Linked DNA regions of Homo sapiens. The protein of the gene in region 6 purifies or fractionates together with the protein of the main gene of each other region. This does not show direct contact. Each region holds a gene or a part of one and is shown on either strand. Other genes may lie near its edges.

What was found.
Region 1: the proteins of MSN (region 6) and CAPN2 fractionate together in Homo sapiens (co-fractionation; one large-scale study listed by BioGRID). This does not show direct contact.
Region 2: the proteins of MSN (region 6) and S100A16 fractionate together in Homo sapiens (co-fractionation; one large-scale study listed by BioGRID). This does not show direct contact.
Region 3: the proteins of MSN (region 6) and CALU fractionate together in Homo sapiens (co-fractionation; one large-scale study listed by BioGRID). This does not show direct contact.
Region 4: the proteins of MSN (region 6) and LCP1 fractionate together in Homo sapiens (co-fractionation; one large-scale study listed by BioGRID). This does not show direct contact.
Region 5: the proteins of MSN (region 6) and CNTRL purify together in Homo sapiens (affinity purification with mass spectrometry; one large-scale study listed by BioGRID and IntAct). This does not show direct contact.
Region 7: the proteins of MSN (region 6) and RAPH1 fractionate together in Homo sapiens (co-fractionation; one large-scale study listed by BioGRID). This does not show direct contact.

What each region holds. Positions count from the first base shown.
Region 1 is NC_000001.11:223,742,992-223,747,497, reverse strand, and holds part of CAPN2 (calpain-2 catalytic subunit), read right to left. Parts: intron 3,399-4,506; coding exon 3,280-3,398; intron 2,193-3,279; coding exon 2,059-2,192; intron 502-2,058; coding exon 333-501; intron 1-332. UniProt on the Homo sapiens protein: Calcium-regulated non-lysosomal thiol-protease which catalyzes limited proteolysis of substrates involved in cytoskeletal remodeling and signal transduction. Proteolytically cleaves MYOC at 'Arg-226'.
Region 2 is NC_000001.11:153,609,598-153,614,613, forward strand, and holds the start of S100A16 (protein S100-A16), read right to left. Parts: upstream 3,541-5,016; 5' UTR 3,355-3,540; intron 1-3,354. UniProt on the Homo sapiens protein: Calcium-binding protein. Binds one calcium ion per monomer. Can promote differentiation of adipocytes (in vitro). Overexpression in preadipocytes increases their proliferation, enhances adipogenesis and reduces insulin-stimulated glucose uptake.
Region 3 is NC_000007.14:128,745,394-128,749,899, reverse strand, and holds part of CALU (calumenin isoform a precursor), read right to left. Parts: intron 2,348-4,506; exon of another isoform or gene 1,546-2,347; coding exon of another isoform or gene 1,533-1,545; intron 1,328-1,532; coding exon of another isoform or gene 1,317-1,327; coding exon 1,096-1,316; intron 1-1,095. UniProt on the Homo sapiens protein: Involved in regulation of vitamin K-dependent carboxylation of multiple N-terminal glutamate residues. Seems to inhibit gamma-carboxylase GGCX. Binds 7 calcium ions with a low affinity.
Region 4 is NC_000013.11:46,127,451-46,130,833, forward strand, and holds part of LCP1 (plastin-2), read right to left. Parts: coding exon 3,364-3,383; intron 274-3,363; coding exon 141-273; 3' UTR 1-140.
Region 5 is NC_000009.12:121,077,723-121,082,228, reverse strand, and holds part of CNTRL (centriolin), read right to left. Parts: intron 1,924-4,506; 5' UTR 1,751-1,923; intron 1-1,750. UniProt on the Homo sapiens protein: Involved in cell cycle progression and cytokinesis. During the late steps of cytokinesis, anchors exocyst and SNARE complexes at the midbody, thereby allowing secretory vesicle-mediated abscission.
Region 6 is NC_000023.11:65,712,187-65,716,692, reverse strand, and holds part of MSN (moesin), read right to left. Parts: intron 1-4,506. UniProt on the Homo sapiens protein: Ezrin-radixin-moesin (ERM) family protein that connects the actin cytoskeleton to the plasma membrane and thereby regulates the structure and function of specific domains of the cell cortex.
Region 7 is NC_000002.12:203,454,907-203,459,412, forward strand, and holds part of RAPH1 (ras-associated and pleckstrin homology domains-containing protein 1), read right to left. Parts: intron 2,690-4,506; coding exon 2,624-2,689; intron 675-2,623; coding exon 531-674; intron 1-530. UniProt on the Homo sapiens protein: Mediator of localized membrane signals. Implicated in the regulation of lamellipodial dynamics. Negatively regulates cell adhesion.

The DNA.
Region 1 (4,506 bases), on a different chromosome or scaffold from region 6:
ATCCCTAAAATCATCCGCACCTCCCCATCTCCCTTCCCCTAAGAGGAAGGGAATATAACCCTCTGTATCCCAATGCGTGGTAGGGAAATCTCTTGTGATTCTCCCCTGTCCACATTCATACATTTGTATGCCATTTCTTGTATTAGTCTTCCTTTTGCCAGTTGATTTTCAGCGGACCTTCAGAGGGTGGAGGGAGGTTTTCCTTTGGCCCCTACGTGGACGAGGGCTGCATTACGTTGTACACAGGAGCAGTGGGTTCCCTTGGGCACTGTGGGAGCCTCCCTTCAGCAAGAGCAGATGGGGTGAGGCTAGGGAAGGCAGCCTGGACTTACGTCGATGGAGCAGCCAAGGAGAGAGCCTTTTTGCAGAGCTTTCTGGATGATCTTGAACAGGTTGGGAGGGGGCTTCTTCAACTCATACCACTCAGCAATGCCTCCGGTGAAGTCTTCGAAGCCCTCAGTGGTGGCACCCCCTGATAGCGCTTCATAGCATCCGTTGATCCTACAAGAGGGGATTAGACGCTGCCGCTACCCTTGACACTACTGATGCTATAATCTCTCAAACAGCCACCCCCTAGTACCGTCTAGATTTGATGCTCCAGGGACCCCCTGCTCACATTCTCCTTGGCCTTGTTCCCAGCTCGGGGTGCTCAGGAAGGCAAGGTATAATGTCCACAGTTACCATTTCCCTGGTATTTTGTGTTTTAAAGAAAATCTCAGGCCGGGCGCGGTAGCTCATGCCTGTAATCCCAGCACTCTGGGAGGCCGAGGTGGGCGGATCACTTGAGGTCAGGAGTTCAAGACCAGCCTGGCCAACATGGCAAAACACCATCTCTACTAAAAATACAAAAAAATTAGCTGGGCATGGTGGTGCATGCCTGTAGTCCCAGCTACTTGGGAGGCTGAGGCAAAAGAATTGCTGAAACTCAGAACGTGGAAATTGCAGTGAGCTGAGATCATGCCGCTCACTCCAGCCTGGGTGACAGAATGAGGCTCCGTATTAAAAAAAAAAAAAAAAAAAAAGATTCTCGTAGAACCTTAGAGTCGGAAGGACCTTAGTGATTTTCTGGATGAACCTCCTGTATTGATTCCTTCTACATCCTGACAAGAAAGGGGAGGTCTACTAATGGGTCGTTTGGCATTGATAGCTTAAAAAAGGACAACCATTCAATAATGGAAGCAGTTTCTCTGAGAAACAGGCACGGTGTTGGCAAGGGCTTAGTGCTCCTGACTGCTGATGCTGGAGTCCGGTGGCTTCCCTGACCCCAGTATTGAGCAGTGGGACTTAGAAGCATCCGTCAGGCTCCAGGTTCTCACAGCTGACTCCTCCTTCCTGGATTGGGACTGTAAGAAACAGAAATCCACTTGCTGCTCTAAAGTGGGGTCACTTTAATGGAAGGAGCCGGGCGGCACAGCCAACATGGGGCCATTGTGGAGAGGGGCTGGTGTGGGGCTTCTTACTGAGAGTGGGCAGCCCTGAGCACTGGACAAACTCAACTGTGGGCAACCTGGGTGGGAAGCAGCTGTGCGGAGATGGGGAAGCCATTGCTAATCAGTGACATCATCTATTCTGGGCAAGTTTCCTACCTCTGCAATGAATAGTTCTGCCCATTGGCAAAAATTCTGCTTTTTTAAGTTGATACAAATGTGTCCTGTCAAGGAAGTAGAGCTCCTTCTCAAGTCCAGCACAATCAGTACCATAACTTGTTCCTGTGCATTTGGTTAAAGATGGTGATAGACATCATTTATCAGCGTACAGTGCAGCCAGGCACCCTGCATGCACTATCTCCTTGCATTTAGAGCCTAATTTTGGCCAAAGAAGTCCTTCTATAGAAAAGGACTTCCCACTCAAAGTAGTCCTGGAGTAGTTCTACTGATTTTTATATTTTTAGTAGAGACGGGGTTTCATCATGTTGGCCAGGCTGGTCTCGAACTCCTGACCTCAAATGATCCACCCACCTCGGCCTCCCAAAGTGCTGAGATTACAGGCATGAGTGAATTTTTTGGAATCCAGGGCATTGGGGGAAGGCCATGGGGCCAGGGGAGGATGGCAACTTACTTGGCGTATGCCTTCTCCAGCAGGGCGCTCCAGAACTCGCTCCCTTCGGCTGAATGCACAAAGAGCAGCTCCCCGTCCTTGGTGGGCAGCCTGTCATCCACCACCACCTCCACCCACTCGCCGTATTGCCAGAACTGCAGAACAAGAGAGGTGGGCTGCAGGAGGAGCTGGTGGCAGCACTGGGACTCTGAGCCTCAGCTGCCTCTGGCTCCCCTTGCCCTGATCCCCTGGGATAGGTTCCATGAGCGCATCCTGGGAGGAGGTGCTCCCTTAACTCTCCTATGCAGGCCAAGTCCTCACTAAAAAAGCGAAGACAGAGGCGCATGTCCATCCTTTCAAATCCACACCCGCCTCTTTAGCATTCTGCCCTGTACCTTAGGCTGTTTTTTTTTTTTTTTGAGACCAAGTCTTGCTCTGCCCAGGCTGGAGTGCAGTGGCACGATCTCGGCTCACTGCAACCTCTGCCTCCTGGATGCAAGTGATTCTCTTGCCTCAGCCTCCCGAGTAGCTGGGATTAAGGGCACGTGCCACCACACCCGGCTAATTTTTTTTGTGTTTTTAGTAGAGACGGAGTTTCAGCATGTTGCCCCAGCTGGTCTCGAACTCCTGGGCTCAAGTGATCCACCCACCTTGGCCTCCCAACCTCTGCCTCCCAGGTTAAAGTGATTCTCCTGCCTCAGCCTCCCAAGTAGCTGGGATTACAGGCCTGCACTACTACGCCCAACTGATTTTTGTACTTTTAGTAGAGATGGGGTTTCATCATGTTGGCCAGGCTGGTCTCGAACTCCTGACCTCAAATGATCTGCCCACCTCGGCCTCCCAAAGTGCTGAGATTACGGGCATGAGCTACCGTGCCCAGCCAGCTTTTTCAAGTATTATTTCTCATTTACCGGCATAAAAGGAGGAGAACTTCAACGTTTTTGTCTCAAACATCAAATAATACAGTTTTTTTTTTTAAACTTGGGAATTAGTTCCTGAACACCTTGCTCTACCTCCCTTTTACATGTCCCAAGAAACCACCCAGGGCCATCCCAGCCGGGTCTCACATCCTGGCCACGGGTAAGCCAGGAAGCTTCCTGCTCTCGCCCAATGTCCTTTGTAGAACAGTATTGGTCTTGGGAGTCTGCAAACACCAGGGACTGATGAACCCAGCCAAGCCAGAAGACTGTTCCTAGCCCCCTGGACCTGTTGAGGAACCACCTGAGCCAACCATTAAGTTACCTGGAAGTGAAAGATCCCTGCATAGTTTTCCTGGAAGCTCTGGTTTAGGGGGACGACTCGAGCCAGGATTTCTTCATTCAAGGTGAGGGAGGCAATGGCTGCCAGCAGCCAGCAGTCACCTGTGAACACAGCACAAGGAGCTCTTATCAGAGGGTCTTAGAACCAGGAGGATGTTAAAAATCTTGTCTCCACCTCCAGGGGCTTAAAGCCTAAGACAACCTGTGAATAGACAGAGTGAAGTTTCAGGCAGTCCCCCATATGAGGGTTGGGTCAGAGGGTTTGGGGGCTATTAGGTTGGTGTAAAAGTAATTGTGATTTTTGCACCAACCTAGTATTTTGAGGGAAATGCAAAGGGAGAAATGTTTTTGCTGTGTTGTGGTTGGGCAGAGATGGGAAATTTCATTCCCTGAAAGACCCAGAACTCTGGTGGCTGAACTGTGCCCTCAGAGCCCAGCCTTGCACCTGATTCGCAGCAGATGCTCCACAGTGAGAGAATGAAACCAGCGCAGCTGCAGAGGCTTCTGAGCACACAGGCTTTGAATGGGAGTTTGGGCTGGGTGTGGTGGCGTACACCTGGAGTCCCAGCTATAATACGAATACTTGGGAGGCTGCGGCAGGAGGATCCCTTGAGCCCAGGATTTCAAGGCTGCAGTGAGCCATGATTGCACCACTGCACTCCAGCCTGGGCAACAGAGGGAGACCCTCATCTCTAAATAAATAAACAAACAAATATATAAAGGGGAGTTTGAGTGAGAGAAAGAAAACGTAGTGCTAGATGGGAAGGGGACAAACGTTGCACGCCTCCTAGGAGGAAGGTCAGAGCCAGGAAAAGAGGCTCTGGCAGGGAGTACAGTCGCAGGAAGTAAGTACGGAGCAGTGCAGATGGAAAAGCCCTGAGTCAGAGGCAGAAGGCTGGACTGTCCCGAAGGGTTTCTGTGCGGAGGGGCAGAGGTCACTTCAAGGGGTAGACAAGGATGGGCACAACGAGGTGGGCAGCTGGCCAGGCAGCCTGGTCCCTCTCTGAGCCTCAGAACCCTCCCCCATGACATGGATAAGTGTGAGGCATAATGAGAGCAGGTGTGTAAGCACTCGGCACCCATTTGGTGCCAGTGCTAGGTTCTCAGCACAGCAGGCACCACAATCATTTCATGCAGTTAGAAGCAAGCTGATGCCAGCAACAGCACCCAGATGGTTTGCAGGGAGGGGTCATCTTCACCACAAAACACA
Region 2 (5,016 bases), on a different chromosome or scaffold from region 6:
TTCTGAACCAAGCGGCGGGACTCAGACTTTAGGACAGTTTTTTCAATCCTGGATATACACCACCCCCTGCTTTTAATCTCTGCATCTCTCCAGCCCACATTGCCTGGTCCAGTGCCTTGCTCAAGGTACACGTTCTATAAATATTCCACCTCCTTCCAGCCCTGATAACGGGTATTGCACGTCCTTGACCACCTTTTAAGCTTTTTCTTTCATGAAGCCTCTTCTGAAGGAAGGGTGGGACCAGGAGGGAACAGGCCAGGAAGCAAGAAGGAAGGAGAGTTGAGAGGAAGAGTCAGGCTGCGGCTTCTCTGAAGGGAAATCCTGCCCTTGTCTTCCCTCCTCCGCCTGCCCAAACCCTCTGGTCCTTGGCTGGGAGGATGGAGCAGAGTACCAGGATGGCAGGAAGCCACACGCTTTTCCATATTCTTTTATTTAAGTGTGTAACTGCGTGGTTCCCTGTCTATACCGCTGCAAGACTTTCATACAAACACTTTAACATTTACAGTTGAAGAGGAAGACCATTGTTCAACCTGTGGTCTGTCTGCTGTGCTGCCCTTGGGTTGGAGGTGGCTCAGGTTCATGACCAGTGTTCCAGGTGATTCTGAAAACCGTGCCCATTTCTGGAAGGACTGTGCCAAGTCCACTCCCAACCAAGACTTGGAAGTGGGAAGATAATTCAGAGAAACTCCCCACACTTAACCATCCCAATCCTTGTTCCCTAAATGAGGGATCTTGTGGGAAACGGTCAGGGAGAGGAAGAGGGAAGGAAATGGGTGGTGCACCTCCCTCTGCCACTCTCCCCACAAGCTAGCCCACCTCTCCCACCACCTGCCTCCTTGGAGTCATTTCTCTGAGCTGTCTCCTCCTGGCCTTCCTCAATACCATGACTCAACCCCTGCTTGGCCTCTGGCAGCAGCCAAGTGGCCAAGACACAGATGAGCCCCAGAGATGACTCTGCCACCTGCTCCCAGGAGTACTGGGAGACCCAGAGCGGGAGCTCCAGTGCCTCAGGGCTTCAGCTCCCAGCCCCTCCTCCCAGGAATCCACCCGCTCCCCACCTTCGGTAAAATGGACAGTGCTGGAGATAACCATCTGACAAGTGCTTTTCTGGAGCTTTTTCTGAAGGAAGGATAGGGTAGCAGGCAGGCAGGGATCGTTATCCTCCTCTGCCTCCCTCCCCTGGAGGCCAGGAGACAGGATCTGCCACCCCACCCACCCCACAAGCCACCTGCTCCTCCCGCCTGCCCCATTCCCCCACCAGCCAGGCCCCGGGTCTCCTGGTTCAGGGGTCGGGCAGATGTTCTATCCCATCAGCCGCTTCCTAGAAAGGTCAAGCAGGAGGTCGTTCCTGCATTGGCCCTGCCACAGGTAGATCCTGGCCTGAGTGGACAGTGTACACAGGAGCCTTCCAGAAATGTGGGAATGGGAGGACCACGTGTCCTCCAATGGGCCCTCTCACCTCAGGCCTCCAGCCCTACCCCAATGTTCTCATTGTCTTCCCCTTGGCTGATTCATCATTGAGCAACAAGCAGTCTCCCACCCCCACCCCACCCACCTCAGCCCAGCTTGCTGACTTCTCCAAAAGCCCAAATTGCCCTGACTCCATGCCCCTGGATCCCAGCCACTCCAGCCCCACCCTCCCACCCCCAGGTTCTGGGCTCCACGCCCTCCAAATGCCTCCTAACCACCCCTAGCATCCCCAGGCTCCTTCCGTCTGGAGCTCCAAACATCCACCACACCGTCCTAAGTCCACCTTCTCTTCTCACCCCACAGACACCTCTGGAGTCTTAAGTTTTTTCCAAGTGTTGGGATGTGTCCCTAGACTCCTGTCCCTCCTGGTCACTGTTCTCTCCAGAGCCTAGCCCACTGTCAAGCCTAAGTATGGATTCTCTGTGTCCCTTCCATCTACCTGGAATTCATTTGCTCACTTAGGCACCATGAGTTTGCTTACTCATTCATTTATTGGCTCATTCATTCACTCTCATTCATTCACTTGCTCATTCAATAATGCATTCACTCTCTTGCACATTCATTCATTCATTCCCTTTTTCATTTACTCATTTGTCCTCTCTAACTTCAATATATAGGGAAGGTGCCATCCGAACTGGGCTGACAATGCCACCTCTATCAGCAAGGCTGTTTCAAATGAAATTTCTCCAGCCTCAGCTGTTCCATTCTCTGCTCCTTCCTGTGTTCTTTCTCCAATTCCACAAGGCCCTCTCCAGGAACAGCTCCCGGAGCATAGTGGGGCCTGCTTGGCCCTGCCTCACCCCTTACCATCCTCACAGGATTCTGCGTCTAACTCTCTTTGTCTCTCTCTCACACACACACACACACACACACACACACACACACCGAGCAAGGACCTCGGCCATTCCTGATCCCCTCTGCTTGGGTGACCCATCACCCTTCCACTCACTTCAGTTCTTGGAGCAAGAAGCCAGCCTCTGAAATTTTTCCAGGCAAGTGAAGTTGGAGGAGTTCAGTGTGGATCTTGCCCCCGCCTCCCCCAACACACACACAGCTACCCCAGCCTCAACAACACTTACTAGAATGTGGGGAAAGGCAGAGCCAGCTCCCCAGCACCCCTGCCCTCACCACCATCCCCACTGGGCTGGGCAGGGGAAGGCTCCCATAGTGCAGGTGGCTCTGCCAAGAAAAGCAGCTCAAGCCGGGGCCTGCCTGGGTCCTGAGGTGGAGGAGCTGCCGAGGTTCAGCCCCCCTCTCTCTATCTTTCCCTCTCCCAGGGAGCTTGCAGGCTCCCCACAGCCTCACTCGGGTTCCTCCCAGATCTCATCATCCCTCTCAAGGAACAGCTCCTGGAACACAGTGGGGTCTGCTTGGGTCGTGAGGTAGAGGGGACGCCACCTCAGCCCCCGCCTCCTCTTCTCGGAATCTCAGGCTCCCTGGAAACTGCCTGGTTCCTTCTGGACCCCATCACCTCCCCTAGGACACAGCTCCCAGAGCCCAGCAAGGCCTGTGTCCAAGCTCTGACCACCCCCAACCCAGACCAACACGCATTTGTCCTCTCCTTTTGGGGAGGATCGAGTAGCTGTGGTCAAAGCTTCCAAATACTCTGCCCCTGGAGAGGAGCTCCGTCAGCTGCTGCGGCAGGGAGGGGGTCTCACCATCCCATCCATCCCTCTAAAGGCCTCACCCAGCCCCCAACCCCCCAGGACTCCCCATTCCTAAACTGGCCTGTGGGAGAAAGTTAATAATTACCAAAATCTTCCTGCCTGCTCTCTGGCAGGCCCCTCTCCCCAGGCCCCCTTCACTGCCCCTTCTCCTGGCCTCCCAATACTGTGGGGCCCTCCGGCAGCCGAAGACCTCCCAGGCCGGGCCCAGGGTGCTCACCTGCTGCCTCAGTCTGCCTCCTCTCCAGCAGGGCTCTGGGGCCTGGGCTCTGGCACTGCCAAGCAGCTCCCTGCGCTCAGCCCAGCCGGGACTCCTCCCCGCTGCACTCCCAGAATCTGTCCCACTCCCTCCCAGCCCTGCCCGCTGAGCTGGCTCGGTGGGGAGATAGTGGCTGAGCTCCTTCTTGACTTGGCCCTGGGGTTGGGCCCTTGTTAAAGGGATACACACCTTTTTTCACACCCCTCTACCCCCATCCCAGAGGGAGTGGTGAAAACTGGCACTCCCCCAACCCCACCCTCCCAGCCCCGCAGGGGCTGAGCAGAACCTGACAGGGTAGAGAAAGGAAGGGAAGGACTATCACCTGCCTTTCTCACCTGGGTCACTGGGATCCCAGTTTCAGGGGCTCCCAACAGACAAGTTCAGTTAACATTCCAGGCCAGCCTAACTGGCCACAGAAACCTCCTTGCCACTGGGGTTTCAGGAGTAACGCCCGACTTCTGTGCTCAAATCAGAAGGCAGATGCCAGGGACCTGTCTGGCTCCCTGGTCTTCTGTCTCTAGTCTGACCCATCAGCTCTACTGAGACCCAGCCCTAAGATCCCTCATGTACACCAGAAGACTCCTCTGGAAACTCCCCACACCCCACCGTTTCCCTAAGATACCCAAGGAAACTGGCCAGCTCGACCTCCCTACACTAGGGCAGCAGCTGAAACCAAAGAGGGGCCCACTTGCCCACTCCAGCGGGAATGATATTGGGTCACTGGGCACTCACCATGTGTCAGGCTCTCTGTAAGTGCTTTACATGATGTGTGGCATTGTCCTCCTGGCAATCCTGTGGAAGTAATATTCATATCCCCCATTTTACAGATGAGGAAACTGATACTAAGAGCATGCCCAAAATTCCAATGATAAGTGGCAGATCTGAGATTCAAACTCAGGCCAGTCAGCCTGTTTCTAACCGCCCCCCACCCCCACCCACCCCATTTCCCTGGTTGTGCCAGCCAGGGCTCAGAACACCTGGACTAATATCCTTTTCCCCAAGTGTGCACACATACCCTCCTCTCCTATAAGAGGGCCCGCCCATTGGCAAAGAGGAGCCTGTCCCTCAGAGAGGACCATGTTGCCCTTTTGGACCTGGTACCACCCTCAACCCAAACCCATAGGGAAAAGTGAGTCCCCATTCACTTCCACAGCCAACCACTCCAGCCCCACGTGCCCCACCCTACCAATGACTTTGCCTTTCACCCCCAAGCTCCTCTCACCCGTGGACCCTCAGGGAGGGGGTGTCCAGTCAAGACAACATGTTTCACTTTTTTCATTTTTTTTTATTAATCAAATGATACAAAACAACCATCATTCTGTCAATGCCCAAGCACCCAGCTGGTCCTCTCCCCACATGTCACACTCTCCTCAGCCTCTCCCCCAACCCTGCTCTCCCTCCTCCCCTGCCCTAGCCCAGGGACAGAGTCTAGGAGGAGCCTGGGGCAGAGCTGGAGGCAGGAAGAGAGCACTGGACAGACAGCTATGGTTTGGATTGGGGAAGAGATTAGGAAGTAGGTTCTTAAAGACCCTTTTTTAGTACCAGATATCCAGCCATATTCCCAGCTCCATTATTCAAATCATTTCCCATAGCCCAGCTCCTCTCTGTTCTCCCCCTACTACC
Region 3 (4,506 bases), on a different chromosome or scaffold from region 6:
AAAACTGAAAGTGAGGATGGTCTCCCAAAGGAAAGCAACCTAATAGAAAACTAACTCTGTGATGCATATCTATCTACTTTCAAATGCTATGTGACAGTGCTCATTCTACATAGCAAAATATCTTTATTATTTCTGTCAATGTTGAAAAATAAAACATTGTACCCTTCAGTCAGTAGATAACCCAATGAAAAAATACATCTATTCTGCAGCATCTTCCAAAGCAAATCCTACAACGTCTTATGATCAAAATGCTACCCATCAAGGCAAAATATTTTTAGAAATTGCTATGTGTGGCACAACTTTCCACACAAATCTCTTGAATACAATCAGGAAGTTGCACCAACAGTGCTCACTGAGAAGAATATTTTTACAAAATTGACCTGCATTTTCTTCAAAAGGAAGGCTTTGGAAGGACCAAAAAAGACATTCTCAGATCCCCAATTAGAAATAATCAACTGGGATTCTACCAAATCCATTTTTCAGGACAAAAGATGTCTACCGAGAGAGCCAAAGAACCTGACTATGGCCCTGCTGTTACTGAAACAGTAACTCATACTCAGACATTAAGTTACAATTTTCTAAAAGACAAAGTTGGTTTGATTTTTGTTTTTTAATTAAACAAATATCTGAGAATGAAAATAAAGAGGGTGAAGGACACCTCGGGAAATCATAAACTTTATAGGGATCCAATGTGCCGTTTATTAGCCCATCAAAGACTTGGCTTGTGCCAGGTCAGTAGGGCACAGATAGTTTTTAAAAATTAAAAGCAGTAGAGATGAGAAGAGATGAGAAATCCCCCCATGCTATGTTCTTCTGGTAGCAAGATAATGCAGTTCAAGTTGGGTCTTGCAGTACTTGGTACTTTTATGCAAAAATGATGCTTTGTAGAATGAGGCACCAACTGTTATTCAATTAAAAATGTATGAAATCAGGCATTTAATGAAATTTTAGAGGTAGTAATTCCATGGTTAGCTTTCAGAAGATGTATTAATAGTTCAATATAACTTTACTCATAACTGAGCCAGAAAAGAAAAGAATTAGCCTTTATAAAGAATGTCATTACCCACACTAGACCCCTGAGAGGTGGTACCTTACCCAAGCCTTTCCTTGCTCTCTTCTGGTGTCAGCTGATCAAAGGTCTTTGCTTCTTCAGCACCCAAGAAGGCATCATGGTCATAATCAAAACTCTGAGCATCATTGTGAACCTTGTCACTGAGCTGAGGCTCATGATGTACACGGTCCTTCTTTTCTGTGGGTTTGCTCAAGGCAAAGGCTGTGCACAGGGACAGGCACATAAGAAACTGTCGCAGGTCCATGATAATTAGATCTTGAAGAAAATGAAAAGCAGTTAATTCAGGAGGCAGTATGCTTAATAACTAAATAAGAAATTAAAAGCTCACATCCGAGTTAAACTATTAATTTGATATACATATCTATGCAAGTCTTTTATATTATCCCAAATATTACTTCATCCATAAAATAAGTATGGTGGAATATCAGACTCTTCAATTATTACAGTGAGAAATTTTTACCAGTTTCCTTCATCTGATTGTAGGCTGATAAGAAACTTATAGTTAAAATGTCCACTTTCTGTTTTCTTTCAAAAGATACCAAAGTAGAATTTTAATCCTTTTGCCCAAGTTCATAAGAATTAAAAGTGAAAGAACCAAGGTTTAAATGTTGACTCCAAATCCTTTACTTCTTGTACGCATTGGTGGTCTGGTCTTCAAACATGGCTGGTTATTAGAATCATCTAGGAAGCTTTAAGTTTCTCCTATTGATTTAGAGTCTCTGAAGCTGAATTCAGACATTCGTAGCTTTAAATGTTTTTCAGGTGATTCTGATGTTCATGAGATTAGGAACCAGCGAAATACTTGGCAGCTTCCTTGGTCTATAGCACCAAGTCTCCAACATCCAGGCTCAACCTTGAGTCACCTTCAAAGGCCAAATCATTCAGATGGTCTAGTCATAGATAAGAACGTCTTTATCCTTCTGCACAGTTGTTTCCCATACTTGCCTAGGCATAAATACCACCTGTAGTACTGTTCAAAGTACAGATTCCCAGGCCCTGATTCAAACTTTCAGAATCTCTGTAGTCACAGGTGACTCTAATGAACAAGCACAAAGCTGGAACACTTGACTGAAAAATGTGACAAAAAACCTGCAAAGAAGCTGCAGAGTACACATCTGTTTAGCACACTCTACTGATACCCCGTGATACTATCCAGAGTGGTTAAGGTCTTAGAGGGAAAAAAAAAAATTAAAAATCAAGAAGAAGGGTTTTCAGGCTTTTACATTTTTTCTTTCATCACTGGGAAGGCAGCTCAGTGGGGGAGGGTGGGAGGTCCTGAAATGGCAGAGGAGGACATATCAGTAGAGAGTGGAAAGTGTTCTAGAGTAAATACGACAACACAGTAAGACAAACAGAAAAGTACCTAAGGAGATAATGGGGGCGGGGGTTGGGGGGCAGTCATTCCCAAGTGCCCCAGTCTCAAATAAGGTACTGTTACTGATGACGTGAAGGTTAAGACTTAGGAAAATCCATCAGAAGAAGCAATGTGAAAGCAAGACCATGAAACCCATAGAGAAATGGGTAGAAGATGGTACTTATTACTCTATTCCTATCAATGTTAGAACTTGGCTATGTTTCTCAACATTGTTTCATTCAATCCCATCAAAATACCCACATTTACAGACAAAGATACTTGTATTAAGATGTTCAATGATGACAGTTCACAATGATTAAAAAATCGGAAAACAAATAAAAACAGAGAATTGGTAAAATATATTAAATCTCGATTATGGAAAAATACACAAAGGTTAAAAAGAATGGGCCGGGCGCAGTGGCTCATGCTTGTAATCCCAGCACACTGGGAGGCCGAGGCGGGTGGATCACAAGGTCAGGAGATCGAGATCATCCTGGCTAACACGGTAAAACCCCGTCTCTACTACAAATACAAAAAATTAGCCGGGCGTGGTGGTGGGTGCCTGTAGTCCCAGCTACTTGGGAGGCTGTGGCAGGAGAATGGCGTGAACCCAGGAGGCAGAGCTTGCAGTGAGCCGAGATAGCACCTCTACACTCCAGCCTGGGCTACAGAGTGAGACTCCGTCTCAAAAAAAAAAAAAAAAAAAAAAAAGAATGACATGAGGCCGGGGGTGGTGGTTCACGCCTGTAATCCCAAGACTTTGGGAGGCTAATGCAGGCGGATCACTTGCATCCGGGAGTTTAAGACAAGCCTGGGTGATAGCGAAACACTGTCTCTACTAAAAATACAAAAATTAGCTGGGCATGGTGGCATACACCTGTAGTCTCAGCTACTCAGGAGGCTGAGGTGGGAGGATAGCTTGAACCCACCAGGTGGAGGTTGCAGTTAGCTGAGATTGTACCACTGCACTCCAGCGTGGGTGACAGAGATCCTATCTCAAAAAAAATAAAAAAAGCAGCCAGGCATGGTGGCTCATGCCTGTAATCCCAGCACTTTGGGAGGCCGAGGCGGGAGGATCACTTGAGGTCAGGAGTTCGAGACCACCCTGGGAAATACGGTGAAACCCTGTCTCTACTAAAAATACAAAACTTAGCTGGGTGTGGTGGCACACGCCTGTAGTCCCAGCTACTCAGGAGGCTGAGGCACGAGAAGTACTGGAACCCGGGAGGCAGAGGCTGCAGTGAGCTGAGATCTCACCACTGCACTTCAGTGACAGAGCGAGACCCTTCCTCAAAAAAAAGAATGTAAAAAAAAAAAAAGAACGAGATGCATCTATCTGCAGTGAAATGGAAAATTCACCAAGATATGTCAAGTGAACAAAAAAAGCAAGGTTCAAAACAACGTCAAGATCTCATTTACATAAAAAGCAAAACAAAATTAAACAATCTCCCCAGCTTGTTTTTATTTGTATAAAATATAACATGCACATAAATGGTGTGCAAAGACAAATACCCATGTGTAAACAGTGGTAACCTCAAGGTTCATGGGAGAAGAGACAGGAATGGGGTGGGCTGGTAAGATTGGTGTGAAAGTGAACTTTAATACTGTATCCTGCTGTACTGTCTAATTTGTATGAACAGCACACTCTCATGTTTATTAGCTTTCTGTGTGCACCACTTGTAAAATATTGCTCTGGGTGAACAACACTCTGGCTGACCCTCCAATAATTCAACTGATCAATCAAATCAGTTAAAGAGTAAACAGAAAATCCGAGATTTAGCGGCTCTATAAATACAACATTAAAGTGAGTATGCCTTTACTTCAGGGCAAAATGAAACTTCTATCTCAAACTATAAACAATTCTTTTTTTGAGACAGGGTCTTACTCTGTCACCCAGGCTAGATATAGTGGTGTGATGATAGCTCACTGCAGTCTGGTCCTCTGGGGCTCAGACCATCCTCCCACTTCAGCCTCCCAAGTAGCTGGGAATACAAGTGTGTACCACCATGCACAGCAAATTAAAAAAAAAAAAATGTTGTAGAGTCTCACTATGTTGCCCAGACTGGTCTCAAGCGATCCT
Region 4 (3,383 bases), on a different chromosome or scaffold from region 6:
TGGCTGCACTAATATGTGCTTTTTGGAATCTTATAGAGTGTCACCAAGTTGAACTTTGGAATGGCTTGAATCATCCCTGGAGCATCTGTGCCGGGCAGTCAGGAGTGAGTGCACCGCCTCCCACCCAGCCCCATTGGGCCTCACACCCTCTTCATTCCTTTCCCCATGAGGCAGGCAAACACGGTCATGACCATTTTGGGGTTCACTTCAACCAGGTCTTCTGGCAGGGCATACACTCTTGCTCCAATTTTTCGGGCCATAGAGATGGCATATCTAAAAGGGAGAAAAGAGGAAAAATAAGGAGAGCCTGAGAAACACAACACGAATGGGACCCTGGAGGGTCACAGTCACAGTCGTTCCATAGTCAGGACAGAACTCACTCCTGCAGTGGCTGGAGTCAGTCACCAGCATCCTCACACTTTTGTGGACAAATTTTGGCTCAACCAAAGATTCTGACAAAGCATCAGACTTGCTGGCTAGTCTCGTGATCATTATCAAGTGTATTATTTGTCCTTGGAGACCTCTTCAGCTCCTGCCTTTTTTTTAAGTTAAGTTTTTTTTTTTTTTTTTGTAGAGACAGGGGTCTCACTATGTTGCCCAGGCTGGGCTTGAACTCCTGGCCTCAAGAGAAGCTCTTGCCTCAGCCTCCCAAAGCACTGGGATTACAGGTGTGAGCCACTACAGCACGTGCTGCCACTTTTGATACTCACACCAGGAGTATTCTCTTGGGCTACATAGCAGCATAGCAGAAAGAGTCACAGAACTGAATAAACATGTGTGCTAGGAAAAGTTTGCAGACTACATTTCAACTACAGTAACATTTTGACAAGGAACAAAAGAGGAAAAATGTATAATATCCTGACCTTGGCCAGGCGCGGTGGCTCACGCCTGTAATCCCAACACTTCGGGTGGCCGAGGCGGGTGGATCACAAGGTCAGGAGATCGAGACCATCCTGGCCAACATGGTGAAACCCCATCTCTACTAAAAATACAAAAAATTAGCCAGGCGTGGTGGCGTGCGCCTGTAGTCCCAGCTACTCAGGAGGCTGAGGCAGGAGAATCGCTTGAACCCGGGAGGCGGAGGCTGCAGTGAGCCAAGATCGTGCCACTGTAGTCCAGCCTGGGCAACAAAGTGAGACTCCGTCTCAGAAAAAAAAAAAATCCTAGCCTTACACATCAATTTTTTTATTCTTTGTTCCATTCCAATTCTTGCCCACATATATTTGTACTTATTTATGGTACTATAATATAGAGTAGCCAGAGATTTATATTCCATATTTTCACATAGAATGATAATAGCTGCATCAGAACATTTTTGCTCTATTTGTAGATATATGAAGATAAATTTCATTAATTGTAATTTATTTTCAAATGAGCCCACACTACTACCTGGCAGTTCTTTTATTCACCTCGTTTATTATCTAGTGACCTCTTACTATGGTTACACCAGACACTCTTCACTCTACCCAAGCCCACATTTACTACCTCCTGCTCTCCTAAAATTACTTTACTTTTACTTTATTGATCAAATTAAATTAAGAGCATCAGGCATGAGTGGTCCCATTTTTTCTCCTTGTCTCTCTCTCAATAACTTCTTCCATATTAATTATTAACAAAGTAAAATTAATTTTTCCCCATTATAAAACACAGAGGGAAAACGGTCTGAAAATTAAAAGGGAGCTTCAAACAAAATCACACACAATCTTGCCACCATGACATAACCATTCTTCGCATTTTGTGTAATTTCTTTCACCCCTTTTTCTAAGTAATTTTGTATCTCGCCCTCACAGGAGAGTGCTTAGGGGTCTGGGCTCTGAAGTTGGACTTTGAATCTCAGCTGCACAACTGAAAAACTGTATGGCCTTGGCAAGTTTCTTAAACCTAATCACACTCCCCTTGAACATCTGGGCTGAAGGCTTTTTACAATTTCTGGGTCTTCATATGTGTTTTTCCTTCTGCCTGGAACATTCTTCCTCTCTCCTTCACCTGTCTACTTCCTTCTTACTTGTCTTTTCAGTTGAGCTCAGCTGAGCTGCTATTTGCTCTAAAGAGCTCTAGTCCCCTTCCTATCCCTTCAGGGATGCCTCATACTGTCCCTTCCACACCTCTCATCACAATCTATTGTAATTTTAGTTTAATTATTTATTTCTCTCCATTAAATTGTGTTAAACTTTGGCATCCCGAGAGCACAGGTTCCCACTTTCCCAAACTGGGAACAGAGAGAAGGGCTCTGTTGGGATTATAAAGCAGGGATGCCGGGCACTAGATACTTGTATCTTCTAGACCTGTGGTATGAGCTGAATTGTGTCTCTTCGAAATTCATATGCTGAAGTCTTAACCCCCAGCACCTCAGAGTATGACCCTAGTTGGAAAGAGGGTTGCTGCAGATGTAAGTAGTTAAGACGAGGTCATGCTGGAGTTGGGTGGGACCTTAATCCAGTAGGACTGGTGTCTTTCTAAGAAAAGAAGTGTCGCAGAGAAACACAAAGCGGGAAGACAGCCGTGTGAAGTCACAGACACGCAAGAAGAATGCCATGTGAAGATGGAGGCAGAGATTGGCATGGGGCAGATTCTCCCTCAGAAGAAACCAATCCTGCCAACATCTTGATTGCAAACCTCTAGCTCCTATAACTGTGAGAGAAGAAACTTCTGCTGCCCAGTTTGTGCAGTACTTCGTTGTGGCAGCCCAAGGAAACTAACGGAATCTGATCTGAGAAAAGCACCTGTCTGGAGCAGATGTTCATTAACTTTTTTTGCAAAAGACTGGATGGTAAACATCTTAGGCTTTGTTGCAACTATGCAACTCTGCTGTTATAGCAGGGAAGCAGCTATAGACAAGATGCAAATGAATAGGCTCTGTTTCAATAAAACTTTGTTTAGAAAAGCAGACAACAGGGCAGATCTGGCTCAGAAACTGTAATATGCTGATACTCACTCTAGAGGAATCATTTGGCAGGTGACCTGAATGGTAAAACACAAGACAGTGGCTTTCACACTGGCAAAGGCTCTGCTGTGGAACCCTACCCCTGTGCATTCTTATCCATGAATATTCATGAATGGAGCATTTGGTTAGGAAATTGGTTTTATGAAACTATAGGCTTGCTTATCAATTACAAGAATACTCTCATTATTGGGTTGTTTTTTTTTTTTTGTCTTGCTCCCATTCTGGCACTAGAAGTTTTAAACTACTATTGTCCCATATCCAAAACAGTGATGATGAGACTGCAGAAAGTCATGAGAAGGAAAAGCACGGATAGTGAAAATGAAATGTTTGTATAAAGGCATGAGCATTAGACTTTACAACCATCCAGCTGCCAGTTGGGTCCTTCCCTCCCAATCTGAGGTTTATTTTTATTTACGTACTTTGCATTGTTGAGTTTCTC
Region 5 (4,506 bases), on a different chromosome or scaffold from region 6:
TCACTTCCCTTTTCTATCCATAAATGCTGCCTGCCTACATTGCAGAATGGATCTCTCTGAATCTCTTCTGGTTCTGAGGGCTGCCCAATTTGTGAACTATTCTTTGTTCAATTAAACTGTTAAATTTAATGTGTTGATAATTTCTCTTTTAACCTATATATTTGATGTTCCTCCTGTTTCCTATCACATAGCTCTTAAAACCTTTGGGTTCTCCACAGTGATAAGAGTGTCTTTCGTTTACTAATAAGATGACTGGTGACACCCAGACAGCTTTGGGATGGGGGCCAGTCACCAGAAAGACTAAGGCATGTTTAGAGGGTTGGGACTTTAAGCCCAACCCCACAACCTTTAAGGAGGGGAGAGCAGCTAAAATTGATTTGATAACCAGTAGCCAATGATGTGAGCAATCACGCCTACATAAGTAAGCCTCCATAAAACCCCAAAAGGACAGGGTCCAGAGAACTTCCAATTAGCTGAACATGTGGAGGTGTCTGGAAGATGGCATGCTGGCGAGAGCATGAAAACTTCATACCCCTTTCCACGTACCTTGCCCTATGCAACTCTTCCTCTGGCTGTTTATTTTGTAATATCCTTTATAATAAATGGGAAAATGTAAGTAGTATTTCTCTGAGTTCTGTGACCCACTCAAGCAAATTAATTGAACCCAAGGAGGGGGCAGTGGGAGTCCCAATTTATAGCTTGGTGGTCAGAAGTATAGGTGGCAATCTACTACTTGTAATGGGCATCTGAAGTTGGTGGCACTCTTGTGGGACTGAGTCCTTAACCTGTGGGATCTGATGCTATCTTCAGGCAGACAGTGTCAGAATTGAACTGAATAAGAGGACATGCAGCTGGTGTCCACTGAAGAAGTATCTGGTGTATGGGGCAACAACCCTTACATGTCTGATGTCACAAGTATTGTACTGTGTGGTACGGCAGTAGGAAGAACATTTTGAGTTTTTCATATCTCTATTAAAAGATAATATAACTTCACAAGCATATGGGTACATATAAGCTGTGATTATACAGAAACTTCCTGCAAACTCCCAGCTTTCTAACAGCTGGCCATAAAGAAATTAAGACTCTCATTCCATAGGGGTCCTACCCAATACCCAGGAGGAAGGAATGCTGCACAGAGAGGCCAAGAGAAATCTGGAGAGGTAGGTGTTGCTGAGTTTCCTCACTCAGTCTATTAGCGTTAGATCATACCCATTTTGTCCAATCCTATTTCTATACAGCTGTCCACACTTCACTAATCCTAAGCATAAAAACGGATAATTTTTTCTGCATTTTTTGGGTCTTCATTCTGAAGGCTCCCATGACACATAAAGCTTTGATCGAATAAATTTGCTATGCTTTTCTCTAGTCAACCTGTCTTTGTTACAGGGGTGTTGGCCATGACCTTTATGATGGGCCAGAAAGGAATTACTCCCTTTCCTCCCCTACAGAACTTATACAGTATATAAAGGAGAGATTACACTAATATAATCTATTAATATATTCAATTTTTGGAATTCCTCTTTGGATTCTGCTTTCAAACTAATTCTTAAGTCTCACAAGAAAATCGGGTCCATCGCTTCAGGTACACTTTGTTTTTATTTTCCCAGTTTGATCACTAACCTTACTCAGTAAATTTGACTCCATATGAATTTTGTCTACTTCCAAAAATTTAATGAAAAGATGATGATTGAAGTTAATTCTAAAGAATATCATACTAGTGGCTAACATTTACTGAGGGCTTACCACGCACCAAATATTGTGATATTTCGTCAGGCACGGTATGTATACTTGCAGTCCCAGTTACTCCAGAGGATGAGGCAGGAGGATTGCTTGATCCCAGGAGCTCCAGGCTACAATGTGCTATGATCAACCTTGTGACTGGCCACTGCACTGCAGCCTGGGAAACACAGGGAGCCCCTGTCTCTAAAAAACAGACAGACAAATATATGTTGTGATAAGCTCTTTATGTGTATCATCATATTGAAAGAATTGAATACAACAACTCTATGAGATAAGTGTTATTTCCCATTTTACAGATGAAGATCTTAAATAATTTGTCCAAAATTCCTTAACTAATTGGTTTAGCCAAAACTTGAAATGTGATTTAATTCAAAACCCATGTTTTTAATGACCATGTCATATAGCTATCTGAGTTTCCTGGAGTCTAGATTATGTTTCCTTTGTTCTCTATGGCCTAGCATGATGCCATGGGCGGCAGGTGCCTGTAATCCCAGCTACTTGGGAGGTTGAGGAACAAAAATCACTTGAACTGGGGAGGTGGAGGTTGCGATGAGCCAAGATCGTGCCCCTGCGCTCCACCCTGGGCAACAGAGTGAGACTTCATCTCAAAAAAACAAAACAAAAAAAATCCTGAAGGAAACCCAGAAAATTTTATACAAAGAAAGGATCTCTGATATCATGATCCGGTCTCTCAAGGTGAGTAGTTTGAAAGGAATAAAAACCCCGTCTTTTTTTGTTTTTAAAAAGTTGATTATTATTTCACATACATTACAATATAGCCAAATGCCCCATTCCAATAGCCTCATTCACTACAGGTTAAGCACTCCAAATCTGAAAATCTGAAATATTTAAATATAAATGTAAAAAATATAAACAAGTATAAAGCAAATATTCCAAAATCCGAAAAAATCCAAAATCCAAGACACTTTTGATAGCAAGCATTTTGGACAAGAGATAATCAACCTGTACTTTATTTTTATTTTTTTGGAGGCAGCGTTTCACTATGTTGTCCAGGCTGATCTCGAACTCCTGAGCTCAAGCAATCCTCCCACCTCTACCTCCCAAAGTGTTAGGATTACAGGCATGAGCTACCACACCTGGCCTTCAACCTGTACTTCAAACTGTGAACTTAAATGTATCTGTACTTTTTCCTTCATTTTCTCATATTAAACTATACATATGGATCAGAAAAACTCCCCCAAGTTACATAACTGCTATTTATGCCATTTCCACAAGGCTTTTTGGTCTAAATTTCAAGCGTGGTAAACAATTTTTGTGCCTTATAACACAATTTTGCCATGGAAAAAAGTCTTTTAGTAATTTTAATATTATGAAATACATACTTAGTCTTAGTCCCTTTTGCTATCGTAAGTGTCTTTTTGTATACTAATGAGTTGACTGATGGCTAGCCACCTCTAGGCAGCTTCAGGATCGTGGCTGGTCACTAGAAAGAGGGAGGGGAGAGGGGCTAAAGGTTGAGTTGATCACCAATGGCCAATGATGTAATCAATCAGGCCTACATAATGAAGCCTCCATAAAAAGTTAAAAGACTGGGTTTGGGGAGCCTCCAGAAAGCTGGACACAGGGAGGGTCCTGGAGGGGAATCCACCCAGAGAGGGTGTGGAAGCTCTACGCCCCTTCCCACCTGCCTTACGCTATGCATCTTTTCACCTATATCCTTTGTAATATCTTTTATAATAAACCAGTAAATGTAAGTAAGTGCTCCCTGAATTCTGTGAGCTGCTCTAGCAAATTAATCAAACCCAAGGAGGGAGTTGTGGGAACTCTGATTTATAGCTGGTCAGTCAGAAGCACAGGTAAAACTGAGGCTTACAGTTGGCATCAGAACTTGGGGGCAGTCTTGTAAGCCAGCCTTCAACCTTAGGGATGTGACGCTGTCTCCAGGTAGACAGTGTCAGAATTGAACTGAACTAGAGGACAGTCCTGTGGTGCCCACCACTGCAGAACTAACTGCTTGCTTAATGTGTGGGGGAAAATCCTACGGAATCATGTTGTGAGCGTATAGTGGGAGAAATTGAGTTTAATCTGTAGTCTCAGTAATACTATTTTTTTCTTTTTTTGAGACAGAGTCCTGCTCTGTTGCCCAGGCTGGAGTGCGGTGGTGTGATCTCGGCTCACTATAACCTCCGCCTCCCAGGTTCAAGTGATTGTCCCGCCCCAACCTACTGAGTAACTGGGATTACAGGTGCACAGCACCACGCCCGGCTAATTTTTTTTATTTTTAGTAGAGATGAGGTTTTGCCATGCTGGCCAGGCTGGTCTCAAACTTCTGACCTCAGGTGATCCACCCACCTCGGCCTCCCAAAGTGCTGGGATTACAGCCACCATGCCCAGCCCTCAGTAATACTATTGATGCTGCTAAGCTGCACTGGCATTCTCCTTCTAAATAAGGATAATACTCTAAAATTTGAGAAAAGCTAAGAGGCATGTGCTTAGGTAAAATCTTATTCCTAATTAAATGGATTAAAAGATGACATTTATTATAGTATGTATAGTACGTAGTTGGCGTTTTTTTCCCCCCTGAGGCAAGGTCTTTCTCTGTCACCCAGGCTGGAGTGTAGTGGCATGCTCATGGCTCACAGCAACCTTGCCTTCCTGGGCTCAAGTGATCCTCCTACCTCAGCCTCCTGAGTAGCTGGGACTACAGGCGCATATAACCACGCTTGGCTAATTTTTTATTTTTTGTAGAGATGGGGGGTCTCACTATAGTTCCCAGGTTGGTCTTGAACTCCTGGGCTCAAGTGA
Region 6 (4,506 bases):
CTGATGGGGATGAAGGGAGAATATTGACCCAAACACAACCCCTGCTCCCAAGCAGCTTATTGAAGACAAACAACACAGCCACAGAGCAATACTTACCAAAGAACAGACAAGCATGAAGGCCGGGTGCAATGCCTCATGCCTGTAATCCCAGCACTTTGGGAGGCCGAGGTGGGTGGATTGCTTGAGGCCAGGAGTTCGAGACCAGCCTGGGTAACATGGCAAAACCCCATCTCTACTAAAAATACAAAAATTATCCGGGCATGGTGGTGCACACCTGTAGTTCAAGCTACTTGGGAGGCTGGGGTATGAGAATCACTGGAACCCAGAAGGTAGAGGTTGCAGTGAGCCGAGATCACACCACTGCACTCCAACCTGGGCAACAGAGCGAGACTTTGTCTCAAAAAAATTTTTAAAAAAGAATGCAGATCAGCCTACAACTAAGAGCAGGCAAATGATAACTGTACTTCTTCCAGGAAGGCCTTTCCATCTATACTAGACAGCTTCATCTCACAGGGTTCTCTTCTCACCTCTGATCTACCTGGATTATCTATAGCACTGGTAAACAATTGCAGAGGCAAATTAATATCAGGACAAAGAGCACTGGGTTCCACATGATAATCTAAAGGGCAGAAAAAGCTTTCAATAAAATCTAACACCCCTTCATGTTAAAAGTTCTCAATAAACTAGGTATTGAAGGAGCATACCTCAAAATAATAAGAGCCATCTGATAAAGCCACAACCAACATCATACTGAATGCGCCAAAGCTGGAAGCATTCCCTTTTAAAACCGACACAAGACAAGAATGCCCTCTCTCACCACTCATATTCAACATAGTATTAGAAGTCCTGGCCAGAGCAATCAGACCAGAGAAAGAAATAGAGGGCAACCAAGCAAGAGGAGAGGAAGTCAAACTATCCTTGTTTGCAGATGACATGATCCTATATCTAGAAAATCCAATAGTCTCGGCCCAAAAGCTCCTTAATCTGATAAATAACTTCAGCAAAGTCTCAGTGTACAAAAATCAACATACAAAAGTCACTAGCATTCGTATACACCAACAACAGTCAAGCCAAGAGCCAAATCAGGAAGGCAATCCCATTCAGAACTGCCACAAAAGAATAAATATCTAGGAATACTGTTAACTAGGGAAGCGAAAGATCTCTACAAGAAGAACTACAAATCACTGCTCAAAGAAATCAGATATGACACAAACAAATGGAGAAACAGTCCATGCTCATGAATAGGAAGAATCAATATTGTTAAAATGGTGATACTGCCCAAAGCAATTCATAGAATAGACTCAATGCTATTCCTATCAAACTACCAATGACATTCTTCACAGAACTAGGAAAAACTATTTTAAAATTCATATGGAAACAAAAAAACAGCCTGAATAACCATGGCAATCCTAAGCAAAAAGAACAAAGCTGGAGGCATCATGCTACCCAACTTCAAATGATACTAGAGGGCTCCAGTAACCAAAACAGCATTGTACTGGTACAAAAACAGACACAGAGACCAATGGAGCAGAATAGAGAGCCCAGAAATAAGGCCACACACCTACAACCATCTGATCTTTGACAAAGTCGACAAAAACAAGCAATGGAAAAAGGACTCCCAATTCAATAAACAGTGCTGGGATAACTGGTTAGCCATATGTAGAAGATTGAAACTGGACCCCATCCTTATCTCACATATAAAAATCAACTCTATATGTATTAAAGACTTAAATGTAAAAGTAATGTAAAACTCAAAATTATAAAAACCCTCAAAGAAAACCTACGTAATACCATTCTGAACATAGGAATGGACAAAGATTTCATAACAAAGACGCCAAAAGCAATTGCAACAAAAGCAAAAATTGACAAATGAGATCTAACTAAACTAAAGAGCTTCTGCACAGCAAAAGAAACTATCGAGTTAACAGGCAACCTACGGAACCAGAGAAAATATTTGCAAACTATGCAACTTACAAAGGTCTAATATCCAGCATCTATAAGGAACTTTAACAAATTTACAAGAAAAAAAACAACCCCATTAAAATGTGAGCAAAGGATATGAAGAGACACTTTTCAAAAGAAGACATACATGTGGCCAAGAAGCATATATAAAAAATTTACATCATTAGAGAAATGCAAATCAAAACCACAATGAGATACCATCTCACACAAGTCAGAATAGCTATTATTAAAAAATCAAAAAAAAATAATAACAGATGCTAGTGAGATTGCAAAGAAAAGGGAACCTTTATACACTGTTGGTGGGAGTGTAAATTAGTTCAACCATGGTAGAAAACAGTGTGGCAATTTCTCAAAGACCTGAAAACAAAACTACCATTCAACCCAGCAATATCATTATGGGGTATATATCCAAAGGAATATAAATCATTCTATCATAAAAATACATAAACGCGCATGTGCATTGAAGCACTATTCACAATAGCAATGACATGGAATCAACCTAAATGCCAGTCAATGGTAGACTGGATAAAGAAAATGTATGTTAGTATGCAGCCATAAAAAACAACAAGATCATGTCCTTTGCAGGAACATGAATGGAGTGGAGGTCATTATCCTTAGCAAACTAATGCAGGAACAGAAAATCAAATGCCAGACTGGGCATGGTAGCTCACACCTGTAATCCCAGCACTTTGGGAGGCCAAGATGGACGCATCCCTTGAGGCCAGGAGTTCAAGACCAGCCTGGACAATATAGCGAAACCCCATCTCTACTAAAAACACAAAAATTAGCCAGGCAAGGTGGTGCACACCTGTAATCCCAGCTACTTTGGTGGCTGAGGCACGAGAATCGCTTTAACCCGGGAGGCAGAGGTTGTAGAATACCACATGTTCTCACTTATAAGTGGGAATTAAATGATGAGAACACACAGACACATAGAAGGTGGAGGGTGGGAGGAGGGAGATGATCAGGAAAAAATATTTTAATAACTAATGGGTACTAGGCTTAATACCTGGGTGATAAAATGATCTGTACAATGAACCCCCATGACATGAGTTTACCTTATGACAAACCTGCACATGTACCCCTGAACTTAAAATAAAAATTAAAAACAAAGAAGAACACTGGATTCCAAGCCTAGCATGTAGCTGGTCAAATCTACAACCTTGGATAACTCCTGTCCTTTTCCTGGGCCTTAGTTTCCCTTACCTGTGCAAAGGCAGGAATGGGATGGAGGGCAGCCAATTAAACTAGATAAATGGTCCAAAGACCATTTCAGTGCTGATGTCGGTGGTTCTATATACTGCCTTGCATTGCTAATGCTTCCTATATTTATGTCTCATTGGCTTCCTTAGGCTCAAGAGGGGAAGGGGGCCTCAGTAGAGGTGGGTATGGGTGGCATAGAGGGGCTACCAAAGCCAACTCAGTGGGAGGACAAAGGTGCAGAAACAGGCCCAGACCAAAATAAGAGACAGCCACACACATGATTTCACGGGCACTAGAAAAAATACCACCTTTACAAATAGATCCTCGAAGCTAGGTCAATGATAGCTGAAATTTCATAATTAGAGATTTAGTCCTTTGGCTGAAAACTCAGTAGTAATGGTAGCAGTAGTAATAGTAACAGGCAGCAGCTTTCCTGTATCAAGACTTGCTACTCACCAGGCACTTCATATGTACTACCTCATTTAATATCAATAATCACCCTGTGAAGTAGAGTATTATCTCCACATTGGAGATAAAGAAATAGGTATTTGTCTAAAGTCACATTGCTATTAAGCAGGGGAGACAGGGTTTGAATCCAGGTCTAAATCCAAACCTCACAATGTAAACCAATATGCTAAATTCCTCTTACAGAGTACAAAAGTCTCCCATTAAAAGAAAAAAAAGATTGATTTTTAGTTGTTAGATATTTTGCTTAAATAATGTATATAGTACAGCCACAAAATGGCTTCTTATATGGTCATACAAAATCTTTATGAAGACTATTTCATGCTCACGGAAGACACTTTAGTAATATTGAGGAAATGTAAACAGTATTTCATAGAGTCCGTGAGCTCAACTTTGTAAAATGTATACATAGAAGGATGATTGGAATCTTGTCCAAGTATTAGTCAGGCTTGGTTTTGGGGTGGTGATCTTATGGGTGCTTTCTCCTTTCTTTAAACTAAAAAAAAAAAAAAAAAATCTAATCTACATTTTCTAAGTTGGTCACATACTGCTTATAGTATTGAGGGAAAGCACTAGATATAGTATTGCCAAAGATGCAAATTTCCATGGAGTGAGTAAGACATTAAACCTTATCAGTCTTTGAACCTCTAGGACTTTCCTGAACACACGGGTCAGGAGCAGGGAAGAGGGGGCCAGGCAGCTATTTTGCCAGATAAACAATTACGATGAGGATCAGGCCCAGAAAACAACTTTGTAAATAAATCTCGCTAGGGAGCCAAGGAGGAAATCTATTTTAGGATTGACAATGGGACAGGAAAGGCCCTGAAGGCAGGAACAAGTAAGGCAAGTACCCCAGTGGGAGTAAGGCAAGGTTAG
Region 7 (4,506 bases), on a different chromosome or scaffold from region 6:
AAGTATAGTGATTCGCAACTGGTTGGGGGGAGGTTTTCACCAGTTAAATAGGGGCAACAATATATGCTCATAGGACTATTGTGAAGACTAGATGAGATAATACTGTAAAAAAGTTTAAAACAGTCCTGGTGCCAATAAGCACCGAAGTGATAGCTACACCAGGGTGGCCCTTAGCAGAAGAAGCATATTACCCAAACAAGATAAAAAAGCCTGTAATCCCAGAGAGCTGTGCTGTTCTTCCCAAACAAAAATAAACAAAACTACTCCAGAAAGAGTCCCCAAAAAACAACAAATAAAACTATGATTTCAAATTTGGTAAAGAGAACTGAGATAGGCTCAACTAGTGACCAGAGAAGTAAGAACTTTCAGGTTTCTTCTTCTTTATAATAGATTAATAAACAAAGCAATATTCTATGTCTTCCACGAACTGAAACAAATCATAGCCTGGGTTCACCTTGTCAGCATACTCAATACAAATTAAAAGCAATTAGCATAATGAGGAAGTTCAAATTCCAACAGAAGGGACACACCTTTGCTTTTCCTTTGGGAACATAGTAGATACCAGATGCTCGCAAGAGAAAATAACGCTTTTTCCAGGACTTCTTGCCATCATCCTTCAACCAAAGGACTCCTTCAATTTCTGGTACAGTTACAGAACTTCCACAAAAACATTCCTAAAATAACAAGATTATTTGCAAAGACTTATGATCGTTGGATTCTCAGAACAAAGTTGTGTTTACTCCTGTGAAATGCATGACAGTTATTAAACCAAAATGGTTTTATATTAAAACCAAGCTGCTAATTTAACCTCAATTAGAACTTTCCAGCCAGGTGTAGTGGCTCATGCCTGTAATCCCAGCACTTTGGGAAGCGGGTGGATCACTTGAGGTCAGGAGTTCAAGACCAGCCTGGCCAACATAGTGAAACCACGTCTCTACTTAAAAAAAAAAAAAAAAGCCAGGCATGGTGGCGCGAGCCTGTAGTCCCAGTTATGTGGGCAGCTGAGGCACAAAAATTGCTTGAACCTGGGAGGCGGAGATTGCAGTGAGCTGAGATCACACCACTGCACTCCAGCCTGGGCAACAGAGCGAGACTCTGTCTCAAAACAAAAACAAAAACAAAAACAAAAACAAAAACAAGACAAAACACTTTCTATTCTAAACACAATATGAATTTGGAACTACTATGGCAATCCTAAAATGTTTATTAAATAAAAATGCCAGTCATACATGTAATACTGAATTTTTACCTACAAACTTTTAACTAAAACACTGTTTCGGAGAAAAACTAAGTTGACACATGAACTGAGTTGCATGTAACAGTAGTTAAATACCTTTGCAAACAGCACAGTTACACTAAATTTAATAAAACTGTCAGGGCAAACCAAGCGTTAGACTTTATTTTTTCTCTACATTTAGATTAGCTGTCAAACTAAACAGGAATATATTTTAAAAGAATGCAACGTGCTAAGTGTATGATTAAACTTTAAGAATTTAAAAACTATCCATTTATGTGACTCTAAGACAAAGAGGGCATTTATTTAAAAAATAATACTAGGTTGAAAGGACTATAAACACTCAAAATTCTAAGTTCTAAACACTATGCTTTGATAAAAATCTAATATTAAAGAAATCAATCATGTATTTGTGAAAGAAAAGAGAAATCCTCAGAAAACACTAATATAGGACATTTGGGCCTAAATTAATTTTTCTCCTCAAAGTACAGAAAAATTAGGAATTACAAGGCAGATTTTTACTTAACCGTAGTTAGTATCACTATGAAAACTGAATGTTGATCTTCGCTTCCTAATTGCCTTGCTGGTAAGTAAGGGTTTATTCAGGTTTTCAAGTATACTAAGTTATTTGATTTTAGTTCTATAAAATCAGCCAAAAATTCAATTATATTTTTCCAAAAAATGATCATGATTTTAAAAATTATTTAATTATTTAAGGATAAGGCTGGAAATAATTTGTGAACAGCTAATTATATTCAAATTTCTCTCTGAGTAAGCAGATAAAAACAGCAAAACCACATCCTTCATTGACCAGCCACCTCTCCCACTTGGCAGCCCCTAAAAGCTCATTATTCTTAGATCACTAGAATATGGCTTGGCAAAATAATAAAGGGTCTTCAGTGGCCTAACACGTTCACACAGTTGAACTCTCTCCCTCATACTATCAAAGAATACACAGGCTTCTTTAATTAAAATTGTAACTACAAATATAGAACACTGACATACTTGACTTCAAAAAGGTATTTAATATTTTATTTTATTTATTTATTTATTTATTTATTTTATTGAGACAGAGTCTCACCCTGTTGCTAGGCTGGAATGCAGTGGTGCAATCTCGGCTCGCTGCAACCTCCGCATCCCGGGTTCAAGCAATTCCCTGCCTCAGCCTCCCGAGTAGCTGGGATTACAGGCGCCCACCACCACGCCTGGCTAATTTTTTTATTTTTTAACAGACAGGGTTTCACCATCTTGGGCAGGCTGGTCTTGAACTCCTGATCTTGTGATTCACTCACCTCAGCCTCCCGAAGTGTTGGGATTGCAGGCGTGAGCCACCATGCCTGGCCTAATATTTTAATTTTTAAATGTGCAGGAAAATGGGGGTTGTCATACCTCCAAGAGGACTTCTTTGTTTCTATCTGCCATCTCAGCTGTTTCTTTTTTCCCCAAAAGATAATTCTGGAAAAACAAACATATGGAAGGGATGGGTGGGAGAGAAAAAAAGAAGGTTAAAGCATAAATCCATTCTGTTATTCCCTTGGCACAGGTGTGTGTATGTTTTCTTCTAGAGAAATAGCAACTCTGATTTCTGTTGGTATAGAGTAGAATAAACTTTGAAAAGTTACCTGTGTATGGGCATCATCACTAAAATGCTTAACACCAGTCTCCTCCTTGCCTGTCCACTTGTCATAAACTGTCCTTACCCAGACTGTGAGGTGGTATTACATTCAACAGCTGGCAAATATGTTTTGGGATATCTAATGAAAGCTACGTTAGAGGATCTGAAAGGTTTAGAAATTCATAAGTACAACAAGTAAGGCAAATTTCCTTAAAATATACTGATCTAGGTGCAGAAAATTTATGTTCTGGCTTTTTAAGAAGAAATCCCATATTCTCTGGGACTCATTTATTAATAATCTCATTTACTTGACTCAACTAAAAATCTGAATTCTGGCTGGGTGCAGTGGCTCACACCTGTAATCCCAGCACTCTGGGAGGCCAAGGCGGGTGGATCACGAGGTCAGAAGTTCAAGACCAGCCTGACCAACACGGTGAAACCCCGTCTCTACTAAAAATACAAAATTAGCCAGGTGTGGCAGCACGCACCTGTAGTCCCAGCTATGCAGGAGGCTGAGGTAGGAGAATCGCTTGGAGGCGGAGGTTGCAGTGAGCCAAGATCACGCCACTGACTCCAGCCTGGGCAACAGAGCGAGACTCCATCTCAAAAAAAAACAAAAAACAAACAAACAAAAAAATCAAACTGAAGTCTACTCATTAGTACACAGTCATCCCTTGTTGTCCATAGGAGATTGATTCTAGGATCTCCCCTGTATACCAAAATCTGCTGATGCTTAAAGTCACTTATAAAAATGGGGTCACATTTGCATATAACCTATGCACATTCTCCCTTGTACTTTAAATAATCTCTAGATTACTTACAATACCTAATACAATGCCTACCTATCATTTAATTTGCATGAATTCAATGCAGTACTCAAGCGTGGCATATTCAAGTTTTGTTTTTTAGAACCTGGAATTATTTTTCTGAATATTTTAGATCTGCAGTTGTGCAAATCCACAGATGCAGAACCCATGGATATAGAGGGCTGACTGTACTTCTTTTTCTTTTTCTCTTTTTTTTTTTGGAGACGGAGTCTCACTGTCACCCAGGCTGGAGTGCAGTGGCACAATCTCGGCTCAGTGCAAGCTCCGACTCCCGGATTCACACCATTCTCCTGCCTCAGCCTCCCAAGTAGCTGGGACTACAGGCGCCCGACACCACGCCCGGCTAATTTTTTGTATTTTTAGTAGAGACAGGGTTTCACCGTGTTAGCCAGGATGGTCTCGATCTCCTGACCCTGTGATCCATCCACCTCAGACTCCCAAAGTGCTGGGCTAATTTTTTGTATTTTTAGTAGAGACGGGGTTTCACCGTGTTAGCCAGGATGGTCTCGATCTCCTGACCTTGTGATCAGTCCACCTCAGCCTCCCAAAGTGCTGGGATTACAGGAGTGAGCCATTGCGCCTGGCCTGTAATTATTTTTCATAACTGCCTACAAAAAGATCTGTTGATACCCCCAAATATGTATTCTTCACTAAAACATCCAGAAAAGATGTGTCATGGTTATGCCATTTGAAGCATAACTATGCAATATCTTTAACACTGCTGCTATTTTTCTTCATTACTACTTTTTATTGTGGAGTTGTTTTCCCTCACCTACTGAATTTTGTAAAATGTCTAGGTATTGGGAAGTATTAACTCAAACATTATTTTG